Linked DNA regions of Homo sapiens. The protein of the gene in region 3 interacts with the protein of the main gene of each other region in a pairwise test. Each region holds a gene or a part of one and is shown on either strand. Other genes may lie near its edges. The genes, in order: CAMK2B, ACOT12, ACOT7 and POU6F1.

Region 1 (7,024 bases), on a different chromosome or scaffold from region 3:
AGGCCTGCCTGGACCTGTTGCCTCACCCCAAGAGAGCCACAGGCAATGCAAAGGCTCCTGTTCATGTCAGGGCACCTGGAAGGCCTGACTTGCAGAGGCTCTTGGCTCGTGCAGACCCCTCCAAGCCCAGGCCCTGCCCACCACCTCCCCTTTGTCTCTGGAACTGCCAGGACAGCTTGTCCTCAGCCAGCAGGTTTCCCGACCCGGGCACCTCTTCATGTTGGGCCCCCCTCCTTTCCCTCCATCAGGGATCATGCCCTTCTTCAGGGGCCTGGATATCAAGGACACAAAAGCTCCCATGTGCTATGTGGGGAGGCAGAGTGGGGGCTGGGTTGAGCTGGGGTCTGGGCAGCGCCATTCCGCAGGGCAGGGGCAGCCTAGGCTTCCCATCTGTGGAATGGGTGGGTGGGTCTCACAACGGACCTGCTTCCCGTACTTCAGCACGGTTACCACTCTTGATTGGAACTCTGACCATGCATCTCCTCTTCTGTTTACTTCACGCTTTCTCTTCCCATCAACTCCCATTTTAATTACAATTTGTTTAAAAGCACTGCATATTACTTCATTAAACAGAAGATTAGTTTCACTTACCATTAGTGTAAGGTGACTATAGAACCAAAGCAGACTGGAAACCAAATGACATAATGTCATTCTCTTCTCCATTCCAGCTGCCTGCTGCTGTGCGCCTGAGAACCCCTGTGGAGTGGGAGGGGCAGCTGTCTCTGTACATTAGAAAGGGAGGTTAACTAAGTGACAGGAGGTGTTTGGGACATGTGGACACCAGACTTCTCTCTTGATGCAAGGAGGGCAGAGCCAGGCAGCCTAGTGGGGGCTGGCTTGGGGGCTGCTGGAAGGACTGGCTACAGGTGGAAGAGAGGTCAGACCTGAAGCTTGGGGCCACCTCCAGGAAAGGACAGGTGAAAGTGGAGGCATGAGGCAGGGGAGAGGCAGGTGCCAGGCAGAGGGTGGAGAGGAGGCAGGAACATAGCAGCTGGGGCGGGGGCGGGCCTCAAGTGTCATATGCTACTTTCCTGGGGCCCAGGGGCAAGGACAGGAACAGCCACAGCATGTGTTGGGACAGAGCCCTGTGCCTTCCTAGAGCTGGGCAGGTGGAATGGGGCAGGAATGGGACTCGTGGTGGCTGCAGCAGGAACTGGAGGGGAAGGGGCTTCTGGATCCTGCAGCCTACCTTCCTAGAGGCCAGCTTTCCGGGGTCCACCAGGTGGGTGGGAACTGGGCTTGTGTAGCAAGACTGCCCTGAGGACCATCCATGACATGGTCTAGATGAAAGTTAGGAAAGAAAGGGAGACAAGCTGGCAGCAGAAGTACAGCTGGGTCAGGAGCAAGGGCCTTTCCAGATAGGGACAACCCAAGAGTGCACATGTGCCCACGCCACACAACACAGGCACACACGACACGTGCACGCTCATAGGCACTGCACACACACATGCACAGGTGCTCATGCATATGTATGAGCTTCATCTACACACATTCACATGCCGTCCTGCTTATGTGCATGTTTCCATACATGCACATGAATGCACAATCACGTGTACACACATGCATGTGATCACATACATGAACATGTGTGCACCCCACTCCTCAGGTGCCATCGGGCTCCTCCTGCTGTCACTGTGCAGCAGGGGACATGAGGCCCCAGAGCAGACAGGTGCAGCACAGGCGTTCCCAGGCAGTGCCCCACACACATGCATGAGCACACCCGGGCATGTGGCGCCTCCTTTGTGGACTCAGTCACCTGCCAGGTGGGCTCCCTGGTGGTGTGAGCTCCCAGAGGTCTGGCGAGAGAGATAAAGGCAACCCCACCACCAGGCGTGCTGAGAATTCCCTCTTCTGGCTGGGCACAGTGGCTCATACCTGTAATCCCAGCACTTTGGGAGGCCGAGGTGGGCAGATCACTTGAGGTTAGGAGTTTGAGACCAGCCTGGCCAATATGGTGAAACCTCATCTCCACTAAAAATATACACACACAAAAATTAGCTGGGTGTGGTGGTGTGCACCTGTAGTTCCAGCTACTCGGGAGGCTGAGGCAGGAGAATCGCTTGAACCTGGGAGTCAGAGACTGCAGTGAGCCGAGATCATGTCACTGCACTCCAGCCCGGGTGACAGAGTGAGACTCCATCTAAAAAAAAAAAAGAATTCCCTCCTCTGGGAATTTAGACCACAGACAGGTTGCATGTATGTGGCCGTTGGAGGCAGCACTCACAGCAAAGAGTGGAAACGTCACCACAGGGCCTGCCTTCTGGTGAAAATGGTGTCCTGCAGGGCGGGCAGCTGTTTGAGGGCAGGTGTCCCAGGTGCGGCCTGCAGCAGCCTGAGGGTCACAGAGCGCAGTGCTGGGAGTGCAGAGACTTCCCCCACAGGGAGAGTTCCCAGGAACCTGCTTCCGGTGCACTTCTGGGGGTTTGAGTTTTTTCCACGGACGAATTACTTTGAGAAACCACTGTTACTCGTGTGTATAGGTGAGCGTGCGTGTGCATGTGTGTTCTGTGTGTGAGTGTGCATGTATGTGCGTGCCTGCGTATATATCCTCGCAGATACGGCTAGGGACCTCACTCAGGACAGTAGTTCTGCCTGAGGAGAGTGAATGCGGCAAGATTGAGGAGAACACAGGCATCTTCAAACTACATGTGCGGTGCTTTATTTCTTTAAAAATGCGTCTAAAGCAAATAGGAAAATGTTAAGATTTGAATCCGTAGAGTGTGGGTTCTATTATTCTCTCCACATCTTCCATACGTTTAAAATCTTTTGCAATGAAAATAAGCTGTAGTTAAAGCAGCAATGCAGGCTGCCAGTGAGCGCCCCGGAGGCCAGTGAGGACCAGCATGGCTGGGTGGCCTGTTGGAATCCAAGGGGGGCGGGCAGGAGCTGCAGGCAGGCGCCCGGGAGTAGCCCGGGCATGGGGGTGCGGGGCAACAGGGATGTCTGCAGGGGTAGCATGTGGGCCCCGGACTGCAAGCAGGTGGAGCCAGCCGGATGCGGCTCCTATGAGAAAAGCGGGGAACAAGAGACCACGCTCGTTCTTCCTGCTGCGGGGACAGCCCTGGTCATCGCTCCGGGGAACCCTGCAGCCTGCGCCGCACGTGGCCGCCCCCTGCTGCTTCCTCCTCCCCGGCCTCCGGGTGGCCTTGCTGACGGCTCCTTCTCTGAGGCAGGTCTCTGCCTTCTCGCCTGGTGCCTGCACTCAGTAGCCCCCTCACCAGAGCTGCTGGGTGAAGGAAGCACTAAGAACCCAAGGCTCGGGAGGAGAGTGGGGCCGGGAAGCTGCAGGGAAGCGCAGGGCCAGGCCTGGTGGGCCCAGGGGCTGGCTCACGGGAGGGCAGGAGGGAGACTGTGGCGGACAGCACGTGGGGCCAGGAGGTGACCTCCAAGTGGATTGTGGGTGGGTTTTTTGTCCTCTTTCTGCATTTTCCAGGCATTTTGTAATGTGGATAGAATATTTCTGTTCTTCAAAAATACTTTAGTTAAGAAAAATAAGATGGAAGCTGTTGCACTTGAAAATGAGGAAGCCACTGGTGATGCAGGGGGGGCGGCGGAGAGGACCTCTTCTGCAAATAGCGGCAGGAACACGGCATGGATGCAGCTCGCGCTCCCCCAGGCCCTCCCCTGGGCTGTGTGGAGGGGTCCGGGGGGAATGGGCCAGCGCCCAGTGGTCACCTGGCCATGTCTCCCCACAGCCCGGAAGCAGGAGATCATTAAGACCACGGAGCAGCTCATCGAGGCCGTCAACAACGGTGACTTTGAGGCCTACGCGTGAGTCCCTGGGGCTGGGGGGGGGCTGTGCAGGACAAGGATGTGGGACCCTTGGGGGGGCCTGCTCAGAGTCAGGGGTCCACGGGGCCCCTCCTCACTTGGATTTGGCCCCCAGGAAAATCTGTGACCCAGGGCTGACCTCGTTTGAGCCTGAAGCACTGGGCAACCTGGTTGAAGGGATGGACTTCCACAGATTCTACTTCGAGAACCGTGAGTGAGGAAGCCCGGGTGGGCATGAGGGGGCGGTGCCCCCAGGAGAGCCTCTCGGCCCCTCCCAGGGACAGCATGGTGGCTGCCTATGGAAGCCCTGTCCCCTCTGTGCCCAGGGTTGGCCAGCCACCTCTCCCCCGCCAGAGGCCATACCCAGCCCCCAGAATCCCACTCTTGGAGGGGCCCATGCTGCTCCCAGGAGAGCCGAGCCTCCCCAATAAGGGGAGTTGAGAGAGGGAAAGGATTAGGCTGGTGGGGTGGAAGACGGGCACCAGGGCAGTCATGGTAACCCGAGACCCCCGCCCCGCCTGCTGTCCACAGTGCTGGCCAAGAACAGCAAGCCGATCCACACGACCATCCTGAACCCACACGTGCACGTCATTGGAGAGGATGCCGCCTGCATCGCTTACATCCGGCTCACGCAGTACATTGACGGGCAGGGCCGGCCCCGCACCAGCCAGTCTGAGGAGACCCGCGTGTGGCACCGCCGCGACGGCAAGTGGCAGAACGTGCACTTCCACTGCTCGGGCGCGCCTGTGGCCCCGCTGCAGTGAAGGTGAGTGTTCTGTGCTAAGTGACAGCTGGGGCAGAGGGGTGGCGGTGGTGTGAGTGGCTGCAGCCTGGGGAGGCGATGGGGAGCGGTGGGGCCTGTGCAGAGCCATGCCTGGGAAGTCCCTGAGCTTTCCTGGTGAGGCCACAGGAATGATGTCAAATTAGGGACCACGGCAGGCTGGGTGTGGCAGGCCTCCCCAGAGGACTGGGGAGCTGGTGAGGGCCTGAGCAGTCCACACTGGCCAGAGCTGGGTGGGTTGCAGGTGGATGGGCCCCGGGCAGCACAGTCCTGGGCACCATGCCCTGTTTGTGAGGACTGTTAGAGCCCCAGATGGGCGTTCCCCAGGTGGTGGGTGCAGCGGGCCCAGAGCCCAGTTTTACAGGGATAGTAGTAATTGGGTTGGGCACCTTGAACCTCTCTCCCGAGTGGGCCCTTTTCTGGACTTTAACCCTCTCTGCAGTGCCGCATGGCAGACAGCAGAGCCTGGGGGTGGATGGGAGAGGGGGCTGCTGAGGAGCTGACCCACCCGCCCCATTTCAGAGCTGCGCCCTGGTTTCGCCGGACAGAGTTGGTGTTTGGAGCCCGACTGCCCTCGGGCACACGGCCTGCCTGTCGCATGTTTGTGTCTGCCTCGTTCCCTCCCCTGGTGCCTGTGTCTGCAGAAAAACAAGACCAGATGTGATTTGTTAAAAAAAAACAAAAAAAAAAAAAAAAAAAACAAGATGACGACGACAACCACAAAAAAAATTGACATCAGATGAAATGAAAAAAAAAAAAAACAAAAAAAACTAAAGGAAGGAAAAAGCTGTAAAAATCACTGGCATTCGTGGGGCCACTCCCCACCCAAGCTCCACGTGTGTCCGTCTGTGCTCCTGGCCTCTGGGGGACCAGCTGGGACATGAACTTGTCTGCCAGGCCCCCGTCGCGTGCTGAACGGTGTTAGTTTGTAGGTAACGCACACACCCCACACCTAAGGTGTCTGCATCCTCCTGCCAACGCATGGGCTCCACGTGGTGTGCTCGCTGGCTGTCGTGACTGTCAGCTGTCTCTTGGGAGGGGCTGTGGGGGCCCGCTGGGCTGCCTCCTTTCCCGCTAGTTGTGCCTGAGAGTTGCTGTTGTTCCTGCTTTCCCTTCCCTTCCTTTCATCCCCTGAAGGGCTAGGTGTGGGTTTTCCGTGCCCGGTATCCCCACACACCCAGCACGGACAACCCTTCGGCAGAGCCCAGGCCGGCCCCTCACCCCCTGGAGTATTGAAACTGGAGTCCCGTCCCCAAGGCCTTCAGAGATGCCCCTACACACCCAGGGCTCCAGCTCTGGTCCTTCTGGGGGAGTAAAGTGCAAAGAGGGGCACAGCTTAGTTTTGGGCCTCTCGCCGAGCAAGAGACAGCACTGCTGGCTACAGCTCCAACACAGCCAGCTGTGGCAAGAGGACTCTGCCTGGGCTGGCCCCCCTCCTGTGTGAGGTGTCTGTCCCTTCTCTGCTGGCCAGCAGCAGATGCACTGGCAGCTCCCAACCCTGTTTCCGCCCCTCGGCCCTCCCCCAGCCTGTTCGGCTTCTCTGCAGCCCGCAAGGGGGAGCAGACTTTTGACAAAGGACTGCGGGCCTCGCTCAAGTCCCTGAGCCCCCAGCTGAAGCTGGGAGGGGAGGCCAGGCTTTGTGTCTGGGCATATTCGTCTGCTGATGGGGTTTGGGGAAGCCTGGGGCTTGGGGTTTGGTCGGGTGGTGCAGCTAGTGGCAGAGCGGGATCAGAGGTGGTGGCTGCCCAGCTTCTGGGCTGAGACAAGGGTCTGTGCAGGGGTTTACTGAAGTGGGAGTGCCTTTGGAATCTGGGCCGGGAGCAGAAGGGAGCAAAAGCTACAGTGGGAGCCAGCCTAGGGCACATGGGAGGCGTGAGGGCAGTGCTGCCCGTGCAGTGTCAGGTGTGCCAGTGCCTTGGCGGGCTGCAGTGCGTGTGAGGGCACCTTCTAGGTGGGCCAGGGATGCAGCTATGGAGATAAGGCGGGCTGGGGACAGAAACAGGTGGGCACAGGGCCCAGGACACCAGCGGATGGAGGGCAGGGTCTAGCCCTGTGCTCCTGAGCGTCGGCTGCCTGGGTTCGAGGCGGTGGGTCCCCGGCCCCTTGTGATGGTGTGTACCATGGGGGAGCTCGGGGACAGGGCAAGCCCGAGCATGGTGGGGCTGCAGGGTGGGTCTGAAGCCAGGTTGGGTGGGGGTGGTCACAAGCCCTGACTGCAGAGGGTCAGGGGCTCCTGCCCCAGTGCCTGCCCACTTTCAATTCACATTGTTTTCAACAAGGATTTTCTTTATCTTCCCCTACAAATCAAGCCAAGGGAGGGGCACAGAATGGGGAACAGGACACAGGATCCTAAACTCCAAGGGGACTGTCCACCGATGAACACTCAGAGTGGACACCATCTTCCGTCCACGCTGTGCCCAGGACAGCTGTCCCCATCCATGAACACAGGGTAAACATCTGCCGGGCTCCGCA
Region 2 (6,959 bases), on a different chromosome or scaffold from region 3:
TCCAACATATTCACAGGCAGTGGTGGTGACCGCAAAGGGACTCCACTGAGCAGTAATCAATGGCCTGGGATGAAAGTGGGGCCAAACAAATCTGGGGAAGCAGAAAAATTAGATTCTATACACATGGCTTTTGTTCAAACAAAATAAAGCTCTGTACTCCACACAAATGTGGTGGCTGTTAGGTTCTACACCTAATGCTTGACAGAAAGAAGGGGCCACCGGAAGTGCAGGGACAAACAGGAGCAAGGTTATCTTGAGGCTCCAGGTGCTAAGAGGGACAGTCCAAGCAGAAAACCCATTCCCCAAAGTCACTGCCATCCCTAGAGCAGGGTTCAGGGGCAGAGAAGGACAGGAGACCCTCCAGTCAAGAAGTTGGCGGCCAAAAGCTGAGAAAACCCATCCTGGAATTTTTGCTTAGGGGCTCTGAGTTTAAACTTTGAACCACATCCTTATAAATTTGTATTTGAATTTGGAAACACTGACCTGACACCTTTTAAAACATACCAAATGTAGAGAGAGAGTTTGATGGCTAATCAAGTTCATCTCTGTATGAAGTACTTGAACTAGCAAACCCTCTGTCTGGGACATATCTCCCACAATGGAAAGGCTCCCGGCTGCCTCTGCTGTTCAGGACAGTAAGGATTTTGGCTCTCTGCCTTGCCCACATGGCCACGGCACTCACCATTCTGAGTCCTAGTCCAAGCTGACAGCGTCTTCCTGTCCTACTGAGATAAAGCTCCAGCTGAAAGCTTGCTCTTGCTCTGAAATCTGCAGAAGTCCTGGGGAGTTCATCTCCTGGGACCAGCCCTTAGTCAATGAAGGATGCCAGTCAGAGGATAAAAACCCCAGGGTTCATGCCAGTGGGAGGGATGGCTGGGGCTGTTCTTCACAAACTGTAATGTGCCCCTGAATCACCTAGGAATCTTAATAAAATTTAGACTCTAATTCAGTAGGTCTGAGTTGGAGCCTGAAATTCTGCATTTATAATTTTTTCTTTTCTTTTCTTTTCGAGACAGGGTCTCACTGTGTCACTCAGACTGAAGTGCAGTGGCCCAATCATGGCTCACTGCAGCCTCGACCTCCTGGGCTCAAGCAATCCTCCCACCTCAGCCTCCCAAAGTAGCTGGGACCACAGGCATATGCTACCTTTCCTGGCTAATTTTTAAATTTTTTTTTTTTTTTTATAGAGACAAGGTCTCTCTATGTTACTCAGGCTGGTCTCAAACTCCTAGGATGAAGTGATCCTCCTGCCTCAGCATCCCAAAGTGCTGGGATTATAAGCATGAGCCAACACTCCCGGCCTGAGATTCTGCATTTCTAAGAGGATCCTAGGTGAGGCTGAGGCTGCTTACCTGGGGACTACACTTTGATGCCCCTACCAGTGCTTTCTGCAATTTCCTCCCAAATAAACTGTCTGCTCTCAAATTCTTGTCAGAGGCTCTGTTTCTGGAGAAAGCATTTTTTTTTCTACCTCTCTACTTATATTCCAGGTTCCTTGTTCTTAGTTTTCACAAAACCCAGCCACTACCTTACAATGTGACCCAAGGAAATCACTTCATTTCCTCATCTCTAGAATAAGAGTTTAGACTGTCCAGTTCCCCTTCCCACTCCAGCATTTTAAAGATTTTCTCGTTATTCTAGTGATTGTGGAACTTCCCACACTTTTTTGGATCAGCTTTCCTGCTCCTGTGTACAAACTTTTAAAATCAAGCTGGCTTCACATTCTGCTTATCTTCAAAAATGTCTCTAAACACAAATGAAACTCGACCTTTTATTCAAGCATAATAGTAAAAATCTTTGACACCAGAGAGAAATGGAGGTAACAAATGTTCATGCATGCAGATGACATTTTCATTGTAAAAGGAAGAAAGGGACCATTCAGAAAAACACAAGAATAGTAAAATGAAAATTAGTATGAAACCAACAAAAGATATGAAACCATAATCTGAAGACATCTAAACAGGAGATAATAAAGATAAGAAAACACAGCAGTGAATTTGTGTACCATGTCTGCTTTTAAAGCAACATCTCTAGACAAACACACAAATATACACATGCTGTCCCCTTCAAGAAAATCATTTTGGAAACCCATCCTCTTACACTTATGCGTAAACATTTTTGAAATTTCTTCTTCTTTTTCTTTTTTTTTTTTTTTTTTTTTGAGACTCAAGCTCACTGCAACCTCTGCCTTTTTGGCTCAAGTGATCCTCCTGCCTCAGCCTCCTGAGTAGCTGGGACCACAGGGACACACCACCACGCCCAACTAATTCTTGTATTTTTGGTAGAGAGAGGGTTTCACCATGTTGCTCAGGCTGGTCTTGAACTCCTGAGCTCAAGCAATTTACCTAACCTCAGCCTCCCAAAGTGCTGGGATTATAGGCATGAGCCACTGCGCCTGGCCTAAGTTTCTTTAGTTTATAAGAAACCAAGTATACAACCATACACATAATTCAATATCACCACTTTAGTCACCACTTTTTACCCAAAATAATACAACCCAGCCTAAATGCAAACTTTATTTCCAGTAATTTAATAAACTTCCCAAATATTAATACAGTTCACTCATGTAACTGTCAGCTATTGCTGCATAACAGACAACCCCCAAAATCACAGTGGCACACAACAATAAGTAGTTATGTCTCACTCAAGAGTCTTCATGTCTGCTGGGTTGCTCTGCTTCAGGCTGTGAGTCCTCCGGCTGGCTGAGATGCCTCTGCAATACGTGAATTCAGTCTGGTACCCAGATGCTAATAGGCAGCTACTTGACCTCATGGCAGAGGTCAGATGTTCCTGAGAACAGAAACACGGTGCTTCTAAAGGCAAGACTGGTGGTACACTGCTATCTCTCCACATTCCATTCTTAAGCAAGCCACATGGCCAAGTCCAAGGTCAATAAATGACTCTCACAGAGTTATTGGTAGATGGAGTGAATATATGATAATCTATCAATTCCTAAATTATGATTTCTCAATACAGAAGTCATTAAAAAGGCATTTTCCAAGGAGGAGTGCCAAAAGCGATGTAATAACGTTATCATTGAAATAAGTGTATAGCTACATAATGGGACCATCTTGGATGCACAAGTTTTTGTTTGCTTTTAAAAGTTATTTTAATGCCTTTTATATAAGTCAGACTTCATGCTTGCCTCAGTGAAAACATGCAATTCCTATTTATGATTGGATTGTCCTGAAACCTATACACAGAGGCTCCTAAAAGCTATCAAGTCAACATTTCCTTATTTCTTCACTTTCATTTTAAAAAAAATCTTTTAAAAAGGAAAGAAAAATACCAGAATCTCCATTCTGATGTCGCCATGCTGAGGCTTGGCAAGCCAAAAATATAAGGATGAAAAGGCACCACCAATTCGTGAGAGTCGGCTAGGCTTCTTCGTGCTATTCCGGACAGTCAGGAGCCCTGGGTTCCAGCCAGGTGATCGGGTCGCTTATCGGCTCCTATCACCTCAGCTGCTTGCTCCACTTCTCCGGGTTTCCAGTTCTCCATCGTAAATGTGCTCCCTGGAGCAGCCTCCCCTGACAGTCAGACATCCACCAATCCATTAGATGCTGGAGGTTTTCTGGAGACACTGTTTCCCTAATGAGGACTGCTTTGTACAGTCACTGATAGCAGCTCTAGAAAGTGTAACAGCTTTTTTATCTCAAAAGCTGTTCCTCGCGCTCCGGCTCTCGGGGAGCCGCCTTCCAGACCTGTCTACCCGGGAGCCCCCTCCCCGCGCACTTCCCAGACTTCTCCTGAGACCCGAGAGCGCTGGTTTTCCCCCACTCGCGATAGTCCTGGGATGACAGTGCGGGCCCCCTCACTCGCAGCTCCCACCACCTGGCGGCCAGGGGTTCGCGGCCCGGGCGGGCGGCGCCAGTGCCCTCTGGAGCTGGGCGGGGAGGGCGGGGCGGGCGGAGCGGGCATGGTGGGGTGTCGGGGGCCGCAGGCGTAGCGCTCTCGCCCTGGCCATGGAGCGGCCGGCGCCCGGCGAGGTGGTCATGAGCCAAGCCATCCAGCCGGCGCACGCCACTGCGCGCGGCGAGCTGAGCGCGGGGCAGCTGCTCAAGTGGATCGACACCACCGCCTGCCTGGCGGGTAGGCGGGCGCCGGGGCTGCGGGGAGGCGCGGGACCGGGGCTGCGGGAGCGGCGGCGGCTGGGGGCTGGGGGGGGTAGGAAGGCGAGGAAGGTACTTGCGGAGAGCTGAACCCTGCGCAGCCAGGGATAGGGGTGTTGCAACAGTGCGCCCGCGCTGGGCATGGCCGAGACCGGTGGTTCCCAAATGTGTGGCTCTCGGGACTCCTTCATTCCATTAAACAAGTGAGGAGCCCAGAGAGCTTCTGCGGGGTTTTTTGTTTGTTTGTTTGTTGTTGTTGTTGTTGAGCTCTCTCCCGGGCTGGAGAGCGGTGGCGCCATCAGAGGTCGCTGCAGCCTCGACCTCCTGAGCTAAAGCGATCCTCCCACCTCAGCCTCCAGAGTAACTAGGACCACAGACGCACGCCACCAGGCCCAGCTGACTTTGGGAGTTTTGTTTTGTTTTGCTTTTGTAGAGATGGGGTCTCACTATGTTGCCCAGGCTGGTCTCAAACGCCTGGACTCAAGTGATCCTGAAGTGTTGGGAGGCCCCAGCCTCCCAAAGTGTTGGGATTACAGGCATGAGCCACCGCACCCAGGCAGCTTTTGTTTATGTAGGCTATTTATATCACATTTACCGTAATGGAAATTTAAAATTTTTAATTATTTTTAAAAAAGAAATGGACTACATTGTTAGCATAACATTTTTAATTAAGAAATAACTATTTTCCACAAGAACAAAAGTGTAGCGAGAGGAGTGGTGATAAAGGTTACATCCTGGCGAGTCTCTCTAAGGTCTGGCTAGTGGAGGATTGCTGACTACTCATACCTGCTTCTGCATTCACCCTGCTGCTACCACACCCTTATGTAGTCTCTGGAAAACTCCACTGTGTTCTTGTGACAGAATGACAGTAAAAATGGCAAAAACATTTATTAAGGACTGAATTATATCCCCCACACCACCCACCGAAATTTATACACTGAAGTCCTAACCCCTGGTGTGACTCTATTTGGAGTGAAGAATTAAGGCTAATGAGGTCATAAGAGTGGAATCCTGGTCCCATACAATTAATGTCCTTATAAGAAGAGACACTGGAGAGCTTCTCTCTGCCATGTGAGGCCACAGCAGGAAGACAGCCATCCACAGGCCAGGAAGAGAGCCCTCACTAGGACCTACAATGGGCAAGCACCTCGATTTGGAACTTCCCTGCCTCCACAATTGTGAGAAATCAATGATTCGTTTAAGCCTTTTTTTTTTTTAACAGGATTTGAGATTGGTTATATTAACAATGGAAACATGAATACAAAATTAATCCACACATAGGAAAAAAGAATAATACATAAACCACTGAGGTTGCTAATAATAATGATGCCTGTTTCCAAGGCAACTGAATACATTATGAGACCACTGAAGTGACTTTTAGTTACCTTGCTTAGTGCCTCTGTCTTGTGATGGAGAAACAATGGCCCACCTGCAATTGTCATCATTTCTATGACCTGACATCTTTGGAAACCATGGAAAGATCCAATTGACAATCAATTACTCTATACCTTAATAGTTACATTACTATTAGTAGTATAATATTAATAACTGATAATGTTACTAATATTAAGAAAACCTGTATGATAAAGTTGGTTTGGGCAACATGAATAACGCCTGTGTTAAACACTTTATGGTGACCTGAGGCACCACATAAGCAGGGGACATTATTTAGCCAAGGTGTAACTGAATCTGTGTAGTAATATAAAACTGATTTCTCTGGGATTTTCTCAGAGTTTTTTATAGGCCAGCATTATCTCTTTAGCCACATTACTGCAATCCCAGTCATGGCCCCCAAGGCATTTCTATGACCCCTAGGCACTGCTGGATTCCAAAATGTCTTCTCAATATTTAAAGAAAGATGAAATATTCTCACTATCCTTACTTCTGTCAGTGGCCCCATTATTTTTCCAGTCCCTTAAGTCTAAAGTCTTGAAGCTATCTGAGTAATCCTCTATCTCACACGTCCATGTATTATTTTGGAACATCTCACACACACGGTTTTTTATTTGTGAATCTTTTCCAGGGTTTACTATCTCTGGAGTGGCACCCAACTCATCTAGTTGAGCAAGTCAAAAGTCTAGGAGTCATCCTTGATATTTCTCTCTCCACCTTACTTCTCACTTCACATACTCTATGCATGGAGCAAGTCCTATCAGTGTTACCCCCTAAAGGAGTCTCTGAAATCCAAGCACTTTGCTGCACCCCCATTGCGACCATCTACTCCAAGCTATCATCATGTTTCATGCAGACTTCAGCAGTGATTTCCAAACTCATCTCCATTCGTTCTGGTCTCCTCTCCACACTGCTTCTAAAGTAATCTTTGAAGATGCTAATCTGATTGATCATGTCATATGTTTTGTTCATTTTTCCCTTTCTTTTCTTCACCAAGGGCTTTAAGGATTTTTCTAAGATGTTCAAGTGCTTCCTACTAAAAAATCTCCCACAGATAATAATTATAAACTCTGGGCAAAACACTAAATAAAAGAGACTTAAGGCAGGTGAAAAGTGAACAAAAGTAGGCTTATAACACTTGAAAGTTAACACATGAAAGAACAAAGTGGTGTTGGCTTTTTCTGTGTTTGTTTTATAAATGACTTGAAGCCTGAAAGAAAATGCCAGTCTGCTCCCAGCTATAGTTCTGATGGAAAACCCACAGGCTTGCTGGTTTGAAGAGCCCAAAGACAGGGTTTGGGAAAAGCACAGCTACTGAATGAAATACAAAAGGGAAAGTTCCAGAAAGGAAAGAGCCAGAGAGACAGAGCCCTAAAATCTATCTATAATCTTTTCCCAGATATCTGGCAAATCTTGAATCATGTATACATAGGACAGACTCCAAACCTCCTGGTT
Region 3 (7,024 bases):
GCCTGGGGCCCTGCCCCCCACCCGTGGGATCTGCCCCACCCCTGGTGCATGCTGAGTACCACGCCTCGGCCCCGCTGGCCTCCTGGGACTGCCGGGTAGCCCAGGCATGGGGCTCATGTCCCACCTCGCTGATGGGCCTATTGACTGGGCTGGGTATGTTCAGCCAAGATGCTTTGAGGGGCCGCAGGAGCCACAGGTGGCAGAGCTCCATAGAGGAGACACTAAGGGCATGGCGGGTCAGAAGCAGTCAGTGAAGTGCCGAGCCCTGTGACATCCTCTCACCACCTTTCACAGCAGGTGACCTCCAAGCCCAGGGCCTGTTTGCTACTGGACTTCGGTGGAAAATGCACTTGATAATGAAACATGGGAGCTGAACGGAAGTGGAAAGGAAGAGGGACCCTGCATTCGCTGCACTCCCAGGAAAGCTGCACACAGTCACCACCCCGCAGAGAAGTGGGGAAAGCCAGCTGCACACGGTCACTGCCCCAGAGAGACGTGGGGAAAGCCAGCTGCACACGGTCACCGCCCCGGAGAGAAGTGGGGAAAGCCAGCTGCACACGGCCATTGCCCCAGCGAGAAGTGGGCAGATGCTGTGCTGCCTATGGCCTTGAGAAGGCCCCGCCCCGTACTGGGAGCAATAGGCCTGCTTTGTTGGGAGGGAGCCCTGTCACCACGCTCTGGACCGTACACTCAGGAGGCGGCACCTTGGACCCCAGGGACCCCATCTCATTGGTCTGGGGGCAGAGCCAACTGAACAGGTGGGATTTGGCCCAAGACGGGGTTCTGCCCAGGACGGTCCTGGTTCATGCCTGTCGACGGGCTGCGATTATGAACGGCACCCCCTTTCACTCTGTCTTGTGGCCCCTGGGCAGGTGCCACCCCTGGAGTATTAGGTGGTCACTTCTGATGTCCCATCTGTCCCAACGCCATGTTCTGACTGGCCCCACCCTGGCTGGGAATTCAGGTTTAATGAGCTGTGCTAATTCCTCTGGGACATTTCATCGCAACATTTTGAGGGTGTCTGAAAGCCAAAGAGATGGGGCAGTTGCCCTTCATTTCATCCACAATGACACCAAACTGTACAGCTATTTTTGGGCCTAAGTGTTTCATAGACAAATGGTATATTGGCAAGAGAGAGCGCAGTCAGCCAGAGGATGTAATGTCAAGTTATACCAAATGCCTCCTCCCCTCAGCTCTCTCCAAAATCAGTCTCTAAATGTCACCAGGTGTAAACTGTCAAAACCTCGCCGGCCTGGAGCCAATGGAATCTTCGGGTATTTAAAGAAATAGGTGGCGCTCCTTGCAGCGGTCCTGGTCCCCCTTTGAAGAGTCTTCGGTGTACACAGGAAAACTGCTTTTCCAAGACACTTTATTGAAGAAGTCCCTCCCGCTGCTACGGTTTGATCTCTGGCTGACTTTTAAAAATAAAATTTGAGGCTATGCAATTTGACCTGAAACAGTCCAGGGAAAATGAAATGTTCTTTCTCAGTTCCAGCAGCACTTCTCAGTGGGCAAGACCCCTGAGCTTCCTGGGCTTGGAGGGCACAGAGCGCAGCCCCTGCAGATGACAAGCTCCCCTGAAGACATACATGGCTACATCCTGCTGGGCACAGCTGAAGACCTCTGTGCACACTGAGGCAGAATGTGCTAGATCAGGGCTTCTTGAACTTTTAAGTGCATCTGAGTCATCTGCCAGTCTTGTAAATGCAGATTCTGATCCAGTGGGTCTGGGAGCTGAGACTCACTTCTAACAGGATCCCAGGTGACACAACGCTGTGGCCCGCGGACCACATCTGTGTAGCAGGGCCCTGCCCCCTTTCCATCTGCCGCTGCCCCAAATGGGGCACATCTGAAGTGGCCAAGAATGCAAGGTCAAAGCCACCAGGATGGGATATAGGGGCCTTGTCCTCCCCTTCCCCTGTGGAATTGCTTGGTGATGTGGAGGGAAGCTGCAGCTTCTTGTCTGCCTGCAGCGGCAAGGCCGAGGCTCAGCAGAGGAGCGGCCGCCCACAGCCTGGCTTCCTGCCTACCTTGAAGACCCTGTAGCAGGCAGAGCAAGAGCTGTAGGGTGGGCATGGGGTCCCAGAGCTGGGCGACAAGGCAACAGGACCTGGTGGGGTTGGTACTGGGTTCTGCTGGCTTTGGAGTGGCTGTGGCAGCCCTGGGAGACATCGGGTTGGGAGCAGGAGAGCTGGGGACGGGCAGGCTGGATCGCACTCAGGCGCCTCCCAGTCTGAAAGCCTGGCCCCTCGGCTCGGGTCCTCCCTCTAGCTGGTGGAGTATCTGCCCTCCACAGAGAGGAAAGACGGCAAGGAGCTTGGAAAGAAAAAGAATCCTTGAAAGCAGGAGAGAGCGAGCCTGGCCCAGGAAAGGCAGCTGGAGTGAGAAGGGACACAGCTGAAGCCCCCACCCAGCCCACAGGAGCCAGGTCCGGCCTGAGGAGAGGCAACTTCCTGGGAATGTGCAGATGTGGGAGACTGGCGAGAAACTTGGTCCCCAAGTGCCTGAGTCCCCAGCCACATGCTCTCAGGTACCAGAGGACCAGGAGGGGCCAAGAGAGGTGGCAAATGGCTCTGCGGAGCCAACGCCACCAGCTTAGGAGCTGTTACCATGGGTGTCCTGGGGGGCTGGTGGGAATGGCCCGTCCAAGGCCAGGGCCCTGGAGAGGGGCTGAGGAAGGGCTGCCAGGTCAGGAGATGCCTGCCTGCCTGCCTGCCTGCCTGTCTGTGTCTGCAGATCCTCTGGGCTCCCTCCCCAACTCCACTGGGAGATGATGCCTCTCTGATGGTCTGTACCAGGCAGGTTTGGGGATCTATGCACTAAATGGCCTCTTACAATAAACAATGCACACTGGGATGAAGGTTCTGAAACGTCTCAAATCTGTTTAACTTTCGCCTTTCTCAAACTGAGCTGGCCAGGGATCCCTTTCATAAGGAACCAAGCTCTGCCCCGCCTCTGGGATGGGCTGCTTCAGGCAGAGGCTTGCCCACCTTGGGACCCAACCATGCTGTGTGCCCTTCCTGGGATGGTCTCTTCATTCCGCCTGGAAACCAGCCCAGCATCTTCAACCCTGGAGCCGGGTGTGAATCCTGATTCACCACTGACTCACATCGACTCCTCTTTTGTAAAATGGGCCAATGTCCACCTCACAGCAGAGTTGCGGGGACCAAATTTCTCCCTGCAGCCCATGTTCAACCAGGCATTAAAAACAACACAGTGAAAGAAGCCGGTCACAGGGTCTGCCTATCACCCATTTACACGAGATGTCCAGGAGAGACATATACACAGAGGCAGAAAGTGGATTGGCGGTTGCCTGGGGCTGGGGGACCAGTGGTGGCTAAGGGGTGGTGCTTCTTTTTGGTGAGATAAAAGGTTTTGAAATAGACTGTGGCGGGGGATGTCCACCTCTGTGAATAGAAGAAAACCTGCTGAATCGTATCCTGGAAGTGGGTGAACAGAACGGCATGTAATTACATCTCAGTAAAGCTGTTAAAAGAGAAAACCTCCACAGTTGAGAGCTCTCTGTGGTGGGGGAGTAGTCAGGGCTGTCAACGCATAAGACTGGCCCTGAGCTAATAACTACACAGGAATTCTTTCTTCTCTTTACTTTTGCGTATATTTGACCTTTTCTATAATTAAAAAGCTAGAAAAGCAAAAAACTAACTAGACCTAGATCTAGGAAAACCAGCCCCTCCTTTCTTCCCTAGGCACCAATGATCTCCAGGCCCCAAAGAGACGGGGACTTGGCTTTACAAGCGGTGGGCTGCGGGCAGAGCTGAGGGAGCCGTCTGGGCTGTGCACAGGCGCGATTTTCCCCACTCCCCGCCAAGAGGCGCTAAGAGCTAACTCAGGACCATGCTCCTTCTGGTCCAGTTCATAGGTGTGTGATGGGCCCCAGGCCCCACGCACGCGGCACGGCCCGAACGGCAGGGAGATCTCCGCCCAAGAGCGAGAAAACCTCCAGGGCTTCATACAGCCCGGTCCTCACCTCTGCCAGCCACACGCAGCAGTGGAGCGGAGCCCTCGAGTCCCCTAACGATCTGGCCTCCATGACCACCTGGGAGTGGAATAGGAGTAACTTCCTACAGCTCTCGGCATCTTTACCAGAGATGTGACCACAGCCCTCCAGCCGCCGAGGGCGTGGGAGGACCACCCAACTCTGGGTCTGCAGAAGGCACTGCAGACGAGAGCCCTCCCACCCCTTTGCCCCCACATGGGCTGTGCACGTGGGGCAGGGACTACAGCGATAAGGGGATATTCCCTGCGCAACCCATGCTTAGGGCGCGGCAGGCTGTGCACATCAGGGTCTTCCCAACAACCCCACCAAGCAGCACAGAAATGATTGTCCACTTTTACCAATGAGGAAGTGAAGCACAGACAGGCTGAGTAACTTGCCCAAAGTGACACAGCGGGTAAGGGGAGAGCCTCCATTTAAACCTGGGCATGGGGGCTGCCCTCCAGGTCGTCCTATGCCGAGGGACTTTTAGGGGTGGGACTCGTCCATGGGAAGTGAGGAAGGCGATGGACCTGCAGCGTGTCCACGATGAACCAGGGTCAGGGGCTTCCCTGCCTCCCCTCACCTCACCCCGGCCCTCGGCACAGCCTAGGAGCACTTGCTGAGCTTGGCCTCCCCCAGGCGGGGGCCCTGCCCTGCCCTCAGCCATATTATCCCAAACCACTACAGCTGCTCCCACCCCAGCGGCCACCAGGCCATCGAGCATTCCCAATGCCACAGGCCGAGGGCTGTGACTGCTTCTCTCGAGGTCAGTTAATACACAGCCTGAGGCGGGCACGAGCCCAGGTGCAGGTCATTCTCAGGGTCGGCTCCAGGCTGAGGGAGAATCTGGTGCCCAGCAACGGGCCCCAAGGCGGCTCTGATGTGGCCCTGCTCTTTAATATTTGCAGCAAACTCATCAGCCAGGCTCTGCCCTCAGACAAAGCAAATGCTGTCTGATGATGGATGGATGTGTGGGAGCCTGAGAGCCTGTGAGGGCCCCACTGCTCTTCCCGTCTCCCGGGATGGTAGTATCTGCTGGATGTTCCAGGCTCTGAGACAGAGTCCAGACCAGCCCAGGAGCCTCAACGTCACTGCGTGGAGTGCCCGCCCATAAGCGCTGCCCTCCCAAGGTGCGGGCGGCCTTCCTCCCTGAGTGCCCAGGGGCGCCCTTCCAGGGTGAAGGTTTATGAAGATGGCAGTCAAGGGCAGGGATGTCCCAGGTGCCTGAGGACCCAGGCTCACCACCCAGGGGGAGGTGGAACAAAGGGCCGCGGGGCGGTGTCTGTCCCATGGTAGGTTACGGGCTCACTGCTGGTGGGCAGCCAGCCTCCCCAGGTCATGGCTTTGCTAAATAGTTCTCCTACCCAAGTGACAAAGGGGCCACCCTGTCCCGCTGGGTGAGAAGCTGACAGAGCAAGACAGATGTCTCCAGCACAAGGCCCCACCCACGGCCCGGCTGCTGCCTCCTCGCAGCCATCTCCCTCCACCCAGCAAAGTAAATAAATGCATACGCTGTTGGCTGTTGCTGTTTTTAATGGAGGGTTGGGGGTGGGTGGAGGACGAAAGAACGCTCTGCGGGAAGACAGATGTCTCTCTCAAGTCCCCGAGGCTGCTGGTGGGGGAAGGACTGGAGCCTCTGGGGCACTGGCCAGTGGTGCCAGCTGCCGGGCACCCACCTGTGGCCTCAGGCAGGCTCCTCCGAGCCTCTGGGGCTCCCCAAGAATATGCCAGAGAGAAAGGATGAGGTGGCAAAGGGCAGCTCAGGGCACATGACCCCCATGTATCCCGGGCACCTGCCTGATGGAAGGGATGGGGCAGCATGGCCAGGAGCAGGACTCTGAGTCCCACGGGCCCAGCTGTGTGGCCCAGGGCCAGGTTTGTTCACCTGGAAACAGGAACTCAACAAAGTGACATGGCAAAGTGCTTCCTATGGTGCCGGTGCACGTGAGCTCCTACGTGTGTGTGCACATGTGTCTGCGGTCCCTGGTGCATGTGTGTGTGTCTGTGTGGTGGTCCTGCTGTCCTCAGAAATACCTGAGGCCAAGTGCAGCCTGGGAACTGCTCCAAGGACTGTCCTGCTGGTGTGTGGCTGCCCCAAAGGAGGGCCAGATGGCCCGGGGTCACCTTAACGCAGCGGGCCCTTTAGGATGTCACACCCACACATGGGGACGCAGGGGTGGGGAGGGTCCCAAGGTAGCAGGTTGACAGTACGCTCCCTCCCTGGTGCTCAGGGAGCACCGCCTGGCACTCAGCACCAAGCCCCTGGCTCCCCTGCAGCCTAGTGGCTGCCTGGGCCTGGGGTCTGCATCTTTTTCCTCCCTCCACTTAGTGCTTCCTGCCACTGCTGTCTTCTGGGCTCTCTTCCACTGGAGGGGAAGCCTGTGGCTTTCAGAGCCAAGTGCTGCAAACCAAATGTTTTCCACTTTGCATTTTCTGTGCTTGGAGAACACACATTTGGAACATGGTATGGAGGACGAGTGACTAAGTTCCACCCTCGGTAAAATCAATAGCTTGTCCTTTTTGTAATTAATGAATGGCGTAAAAAGGGTTTCCAGTGGTGATATAACAACTTCCTGTAAGCCTGAGGGACACAGACCTTCTTAATTAGGAAGCCACGTAGCATGCCCTCTCCCTGTTATAACAGGAGACAAGAGGGGTCTTGGGATAATCACAAAAGCAATGAAAACATCTCATTATTGAGGACACTCAGCACGGCCGGGCGAGGGGCCTTGTGCATGGAGAAGCCAGCAATGATGAGCTTAGCACCAGGACCACCAGCCTCACAAGCACCTGTGCCCCCAGGGTCTTGCTCCACCTGAGGACCTTGCCTTAGCGGAGCCTGTCCGCCATCCGCTGTGGCCTCTCCGCCATCCGCTGTGGCCTCTCCCAGCAGCTGCAGGCCTGGGTTAATTACCTCCTCCTCCACACCCACCCAGGACTGCACCAGCCTCCAGCAGAAAGCAGCCGGAAGTCTCAAATAATGAGATCATTGTGGAGAGTCATAAACACCCTCACCAGGGGCTCCCC
Region 4 (7,388 bases), on a different chromosome or scaffold from region 3:
TATCGATGGGTCTTAGTCCGTTTGGGCTGTTATAACAAAATACTATAGGTCGGGTGCAGTGGCTCACGCCTGTAATCCCAGCACTTTGGGAGGCCGAAGCAGGTGGATCACCTGAGGTCAGGAGTTCAAAACCAGCCTGGCCAACATGGTGAAGACTCATCTCTACTAAAAATACAAAAATTAGCCGGGCATCGTGGTGCATGCCCGTAATCCTAGCTACTCGAGAGGCTGAGACAGGAGAATAGCTTGAACCCGGGAAGTGGAGGTTGCAGTGAGCCAAGGTCTCATCACTGCACTCCAGCCTGGGTGACAGAGCAAGACTCTGTCTCAAAAAAAAGTAAAATTTTAAAATAAAAATAATAAAATATTAGGCCAGGCGTGGCGGCTCACACCTGTAATCCTAGCAATTTGGGAGGTGGAGGCAGGCGGATCACCTGATGTCAGAAGTTTGACATCAGCCTGGCCAACATGGTGAAACCCTGTCTCTACTAAAAATACAAAAATTAGCTGGGCACGGTGGCACATGCCTGCAATCCCAGCTACTTGGGAGGCTGAGGCAGGAGAATCGCTTGAACCCAGGAGGCAGAGGTTGCAGTGAGTGGAGATCGTGCCACTGCACTCCATCCTGGGCTAAAGAGTGAGACTCTGTCTCAACAACAACAACAACAAAAGCCAGGTGCGGTCTTTGGCATGCCCAGGCAAAAAAAGAAAAAAAAATTTTTTAAGTAATATACTTTGTTTTTTGTTTTTGAGACGGAGTCTCACTCTGTCACTGAGGCTGGAGTGCAGTGGCACCGTGTCGGCTCACTGTAACCTCCGTCTCCTGGGTTCAAGCAATTCTCCTGCCTCAGCCTCCCGAGTAGCTGGGATTACAGGAGCCCACCACCACGCCCGGCTAGTTTTTATATTTTTAGTAGAGACGGGGTTTCACCATGTTGGCCAGGCTGCTCTCGAACTCCTGACCTCAGGCGATCCACCCGCCTCAGCCTCCCAAAGTGCTGGGATTATAGGCATGAGCCACAGCGCCCAGCCAAAAAGTAATAAACTTTCATTGCAAGAAGACTACCAATACCACATACTGGTGAGGATGTAAAACAATTAGAACTCTCTCATGCATTGCTGATAAAGATATAAATTGGTTCAAACACTATAGAAAACTATTTAGCAGTATGGACAAAAGCTAAATAAAATAGAATAGCTATTCTACTCCTCAGTATTTACCTGGAAGAAATAAGTGCATATGTTCACCAAAATACTTGTACAAGAATGCTCATAGCAGTTTTATTCCTAAGAGGCCCAAACAACAAGCAAATGCCCATCAATAATGGAATGGATAAATTGTAGTATAATTATGCAATGGAATACTACACAGCAATAAAAAATACTTCTACATTCAACAACATGGATGAATCTCAAAAACATATATTGAGGCCGGGTGTGGTGGCCGACACCTGTAATCCCAGCACTTTGGGAGGCCGAGGAGGGCGGATGACTTGAGGTCAGGAGTTCGAGACCAGCCTGGCCAACATGGTGAAACCCTGTGTCTACCAAAAGTATAAAAAATTAGCTGGGAGCGTGGTGGCTCATGCCTGTAATCCCAGCACTTTAGGAGGCTGAGGTGGGCGGATCATGAGGTCAGGAGTTCAAGACCAGCCTGACCAACATGGTGAAACCCCATCTCTACTAAAAATACAAAAATTAGCCGGGCATGGTGGCGTGTGCTTGTAATCCCAGCTACTCAGGAGGCTGAGGCAGGAGAATCACTCGAACCTAGGAGGTGGAGGTTGCAGTGAGCTGAGATCACACCATTGCACTCCAGCCTGGGCGACAGAGCGAGACTCCATCTCGAAAAAAAAAAGAAAAAAAAAATTAGCTGGGCGTGATGGCACGCACCTGCAGTCCCAGCTACTTGGGAGGCTGAGGCAGGAGAACCACTTGAACCCGAGAGGCGGAGGTTGCAGTGAGCCGAGATCACACCACTGCACTCCAGCCTGGGCGACAGAGCAAGACTCCGTCTCAAAAAAAAAAATTTTGTTGAGTGACAGAAGCCAAACACAAAAGATTGCATATTGTCTGATTCCATTTATGAGAAGTTCAAGAATCAGCTCAAGTAATCAATCTATGGTGACAGAAATCAGAATAATGGTTACTTTGGGAATTTATGGCCGGTGAAGGTACATAAGGGAATCCTCAGGTCTTGGAAAGGCTCTATATCTTGTTTTGGGTGGGGATTACATGGATATATATATGTGTGTGAGTATATACATGTATATATAGACATGTATATATGTATACACGTATCTATACACGTGTATATATGTATACACACACACGTACATATGTATACACACACATACACGTACATATGTACACACACATATACACGTACATATGTATACACACATATACACGTACATATGTATACACACATATACACGTACATATGTATACACACATACACGTACATATGTATACACACACATACACGTACATATGTATACACACACATACATACACGTACATATGTATACACACATACATACACGTACATATGTATACACACATACATACACGTACATATGTATATACATGTAAAAATTTATCAAGGTATACACATACTGTGTACATGTTATGCCCCAATAAACACAGAAACAAAAAGTAATATATGCTCATCAAATATTTAAGCAATGCAGAAGTGTATACAACATAAAGAAAACCGTGATTAACATTTTTATGTATGTCTCCCTGAACTCCTCTGATCACATCCATATTTCTTTCTTCAAACTGTCGCTGATATCCATGCTATCCAAAGCCTTTGATCTATGTGTAGCACCAAACCAAGTGACATAAATGAAAAGTTTCAACCTTCATGTGACAAAGTTCAGCAGCAATACTGAGCCCCTCCTTCACATAAAGAGTAGTGGGAAATACAAACATGAGTAAGTCACAACCAGTGCTCTCAAAGAATTCACAGTCCAGGGAGAGAAACTACAGGGACTACCGGCCAAACAAAAACCCCAAGAACTGTAATATCAAGCCACGCAGTAGAGTTTCACAGGGCCATTAAAACGAGTTCAAACTATTGTACAAGGAATGACACCTTACAGTTGTATAGAGCTTGCAGCTTTCAGTTTTTTCACATACAGGCTCACAAACTTAACCCTATGAAGTAGTCATTATAAATGTCATTATAAATATTATCCTTGTTTTATAAGTAATGAAGAAGTTAAATTACTTGCCTGGACGGCTAGTGGAAGAGTTGGGACTAAAACCTAAGTATTCTGACTCCTAATACATTGGTTACTCATAAATCCGCCGCCAGCAGTACCTGCTCACTTCCAGATGGAAACAGCAAGCTGATAACAGCCTAGTCCACTGGCCAGGTTAACGACGAGGCCGGGCCATTCAATGCCCTTCCACCACGAGGCCTTACGGAGCAGTCCCGGGGAGGACTGAGGCCTCCAACTGCATTCTCACACTGCCTCTAACCCATCTACCTCTAGCTATCCTCAGACCACCAAATATCGGGAGAGGGTGGGAGGGGGAACAGCCTAGGATGACAGCAGGTGGCCTCAGTATTGGGATCCACATTCACTGGATTTACAGAGCCTCCTTCCTTCCCAGTTCTTCTCTCCATTCCCACGCTTCCACTTTGGTCTTCCAACTTTTTCCTCTTTCAGTTGTCCACCACTTCTCCAATCTGCTTTCCCTCAGCCACCCACATCCACCCCTTTTCTGGTCCCCTCTCTACCTTAAGAAGCTGCTAGAGGTTTTTCACCATTCCACTGAACTTTGTCTTTCTGTTCACATTTCCTTGTCTACTTGGACAAGAAGGCCGGAAATCTGCTTTTAGACAACACAGCCCACGGCCGCCACCGGGTGAGAGACCTGGGACCCTTCGCTGCTTTGGCGCTGGGGCACAGCTGTTCAGAGGTTCTCCACGTTGGCTGAGCGATGTCTGAGTTCCCCCGCCTTTCTAGGGAGGGAGGGATAGACATAAACTTGACTTTCAACATTGAGGACAGTTGACTACCTAGAGGAAAGGCGGTGGCCGGGAGTCACCGCCCCAACCCTCAGCTGAAGGCCATGTGGCATGGAGGGTCCGGACTCCAGCTCCTACTCTGGCACCTTCCGAAATGAAACCACCTCCGCGGCACCTCGGAGGGGCTGAGTAACCAGACCCACTGACCGTCCATCCCTGTCCCGGGAGAGAGCCTCCGGGACCTCCCGCTCGGCCAGGGCCAGAGGGTCCCCTCCCCACCCCCACCCCTCGCTCCTGGCTCCCGTGCTCCCCTCCCTTCCCTGACCGCCCTCCCAGCCCGCCGCCCCCGGCGGCTGGCGCGGGCGGTGCAGCATGCGGCAAAGCTCTTTGCATAAATTATGCTCATGACGCAGCAGCTAAAAAAATCCAAGTAGCAGAAGGAGGGAAAAAAGGGGGGGAGGGAAAAGGGGGGGGTCGTGGAAGGGGGAACGAAGAAAAATATATACCTGACCGCCCCCCCACCCGGCTTCCCCTTCCCGCTTCCCGGCCGTCCCCTCTCCGCCCGGCTTAGCCTGCGGAGCCCCCTTCGGCTCTGCCCAGCCCAGGCTGGGGGCCTGGGGGCGGCGGCGGGTCCCGACCAGCTCCCGGGCCGAGCCGAGCCCAGCCAAGCCGCACTGGCTTCTTTGTCTGCGGGCGGCGGCCGCCGTGGCCCCGGCCCCGGCCCCGGCCCCCTGGCCCGGGCTGTGAGATGAATCTCTAATCGGTGGCCGCCAGACACCCGCGGCGAAGGCGGCTCGGGCTCGGGCTCCGGTAAGTAGCGGGGTCCGGGGCGGGGAGGGGTTTGCACGGAGGGGGAGGGGGCCGGGCAGGGGAGGTTTCGGGTTTGGTTAATATGCAATGCCCGTAATTAGCATAATTTATATATTTATGATAAAGAGAAAAAAAGCCGCGGGGCCGGGGCGGCGGGATGCTGGGCCGGGGCGGCGGGGAGCTGCGGGAGCGGGACAGCGCGCGGTTGCCCAGCTGGGGCTAGACACCCGGGGGCCGCGCCCTCGCCCGCCCGCGGGCCGCTCTGGACCTGGAGCGGAGGGGGCGGCCGCCAGGTGGACCCGGTGGGGAACCCCGACCTGGCCCCTCCCCGTTTCTGCCCCTGGAGCCCTTGTGGGGTGCGGACCACAGGGGACGCTCTGTACACAGAACCAGTGGCGACCAGAAGCGGATCCTTGCCTCTCTGGAGAACACGGACGCCTGGGTTCCCGGCGGTTAGGGCCAGCTGGGGCGGCCAGGGTGACCTGTCACGGTTCTCCCGAATGAACAAACTCCGGGACGACCGGTGGGACCCGGGGGTAGGGACCCAGGCGTTGCTGGAAGGGTGGGTCAGTGATGGGAGGGCCACCTTCTAGCAGAGCATGAGCACTTCATAAATATTTAATATCGATATTATTATTAATAAATAGTCATAATAATGGGCCCGATGCAGGCTCCCTGGGCAGGCTCACCTGGCAAGGCCAAGGGAGCTCCCAGCATACCCTCTAACCTCCACTTTCGCGGCAGAATACCCCACTCAGCCCGACTGGAAGCCTAAAACCTTCACAGAATAGCCTCTGCGGCTGGGCAGGGGGAAATCAGAAGAGTTCGGGAAGCATTCCTGGGCCAAAGAAAAGAGGCTCTTTGCAGAGATTTTTAACCTCATCTGCCCTTCCCAAATTCCTTGTTCCAAAAGTAGAGGGCTGGTCTTCAATTGTTCATATACATGTGTCCCATGCCCCTTATTTAGCAATCTAAGGCAGCCACCATTGACTGGCAGAGGCCTTCTGAGGAATAATTCCATATATTCCATTTTCATTCAAGTCCTGGTCCTCAAAGTGATACTTCTGTGACCTGGTACTCCGCTTATCTGCTGTAGAACTTCATTTCTTCATTAGTTCAACAAAAATACCCACTCAGTGCCATGCTCTGAACAATTCAGACAAAACTTCTATCATGGAGTTTTTATTCTGGGGGTGGACAAGTAGATGCTAAACATTAAAACTAACAAGGTAATACCATAGAGTGATTGTGTGTCAGTGTGTGTGTATGTAGCCATTTATTCTGTTTTGTTCCTGGAAGTACTAGCTGGCAGTTAAGAAAAGTGACTCAGAAAAAATTTGCTCCTGTAAGGTTTTTCTGCATTTTGAAGGAACTTGGGATAAGCTCATATTCTTGTCCCCAAGATTTACTCACCATAAAATTATCAGAGTAATCTTTTACATTTTCTTTTTTTTGAGACAGAGTCTAGCTGATTTTTTTGTATCTTAGTAGAGATGGGGTTTCACCGTGTTGCCCAGGCTGGTCTCGAACTCCTTAGCTCAGGCAATCCAACCGTCTTGGCCTCCCAAAGTGCTGGGATTACAGGCGTGAGCCACCGTGCCTGGCCATCTTTTACATTTTTAAAATGCTTTATAATTTAAAACATTTTTATATGCATGCTTTACTTCAGTTCAAAATAATAGCAATGATAATAACAAACATATATATAGTGTTTGCTTCATGCTAGGCCCTGTTTTAAGTGCCTTCCATAAATATTATCAATTTAATCCTCACAATAACCCATGAGGTGGTTACTATAATTTGGTTCCATTTTGGATAAGGAAACGGAGGCTTATAGGGATTACCTCTAGTAGAAGCAGTACTCAAGCTGGGTCTTCTGCCTTTAAACCTGCCTTTGACCCCTCATGTCAAAATGAGGGTTCATGAGGCAGAAGAGAGAGTGGGATGCAGGAGAAACTGGCCACAGGAGGAAGGCTTGGAATGAGAAATTAGACGGGCGCTTTAGGAAGGGGCCAGTGTGGTCTGGGTTCTCCAGAACCCAATACTACACCTTGGAAATCTCTCTTTTTTTTTTTTTTTTTTTTTTGAGACAGGGTTTCACTCTGTCGCTCAGTCTGGAGTGCAGTGGCGCGATCTTGGTCTCACTGCAACCTCCACCTCCCGGGTTCAAGCAATTCTCCCACCTCGGCCTCCCAACTAGCTGGAACTATAGGCGCACACCACCATGCCTGGCTAATTTTTGTATTTTCAGTAGAGACGGGGTTTCACCATGTTGGCCAAGCTGGTCTTGAACTTCTGACCTCAAGTAATCCGCCCGCCTCGGCCTCCCAAAGTGCTAGGATTACAGACGTGAACCACCACACCCGGCCTGTACCACGTCTTTGAAATCATTTTTAAGTAGCCCCAGTACTGGAAATGGAGGCAAAACATTTGAAGTAGGGTGTGTGTTTTGAGGGAAAAGGTAGGAAATAATAAGAGGCTAAGTGATGTGGCTATGACGTGACCTCGTATCTTCAATTGTTTTCAGCCCATATTCATGAACCTAGTTATATACCAGATATTATCTTAGGCACCAGGGATATGATGATAAGCAGAC

The links.
Region 1: the proteins of ACOT7 (region 3) and CAMK2B interact in binary tests that used the Homo sapiens proteins (3 or more experiments, as listed by UniProt).
Region 2: the proteins of ACOT7 (region 3) and ACOT12 interact in binary tests that used the Homo sapiens proteins (3 or more experiments, as listed by UniProt).
Region 4: the proteins of ACOT7 (region 3) and POU6F1 interact in binary tests that used the Homo sapiens proteins (3 or more experiments, as listed by UniProt).

The regions. Positions count from the first base shown.
Region 1 is NC_000007.14:44,217,573-44,224,596, reverse strand, and holds part of CAMK2B (calcium/calmodulin-dependent protein kinase type II subunit beta), read left to right. Parts: intron 1-3,695; coding exon 3,696-3,771; coding exon of another isoform or gene 3,772-3,775; intron 3,776-3,886; coding exon 3,887-3,981; intron 3,982-4,302; coding exon 4,303-4,535; 3' UTR 4,536-4,537; intron 4,538-5,074; 3' UTR 5,075-7,024. UniProt on the Homo sapiens protein: Calcium/calmodulin-dependent protein kinase that functions autonomously after Ca(2+)/calmodulin-binding and autophosphorylation, and is involved in dendritic spine and synapse formation, neuronal plasticity and regulation of sarcoplasmic reticulum Ca(2+) transport in skeletal muscle.
Region 2 is NC_000005.10:81,391,121-81,398,079, reverse strand, and holds the start of ACOT12 (acetyl-coenzyme A thioesterase), read left to right. Parts: upstream 1-3,945; 5' UTR 3,946-3,965; coding exon 3,966-4,092; intron 4,093-6,959. UniProt on the Homo sapiens protein: Catalyzes the hydrolysis of acyl-CoAs into free fatty acids and coenzyme A (CoASH), regulating their respective intracellular levels. Preferentially hydrolyzes acetyl-CoA.
Region 3 is NC_000001.11:6,264,765-6,271,788, forward strand, and holds part of ACOT7 (cytosolic acyl coenzyme A thioester hydrolase), read right to left. Parts: intron 1-7,024. UniProt on the Homo sapiens protein: Catalyzes the hydrolysis of acyl-CoAs into free fatty acids and coenzyme A (CoASH), regulating their respective intracellular levels.
Region 4 is NC_000012.12:51,215,046-51,222,433, reverse strand, and holds the start of POU6F1 (POU domain, class 6, transcription factor 1), read left to right. Parts: upstream 1-4,371; 5' UTR 4,372-4,792; intron 4,793-5,128; exon of another isoform or gene 5,129-5,328; intron 5,329-7,388. UniProt on the Homo sapiens protein: Transcription factor that binds preferentially to a variant of the octamer motif (5'-ATGATAAT-3').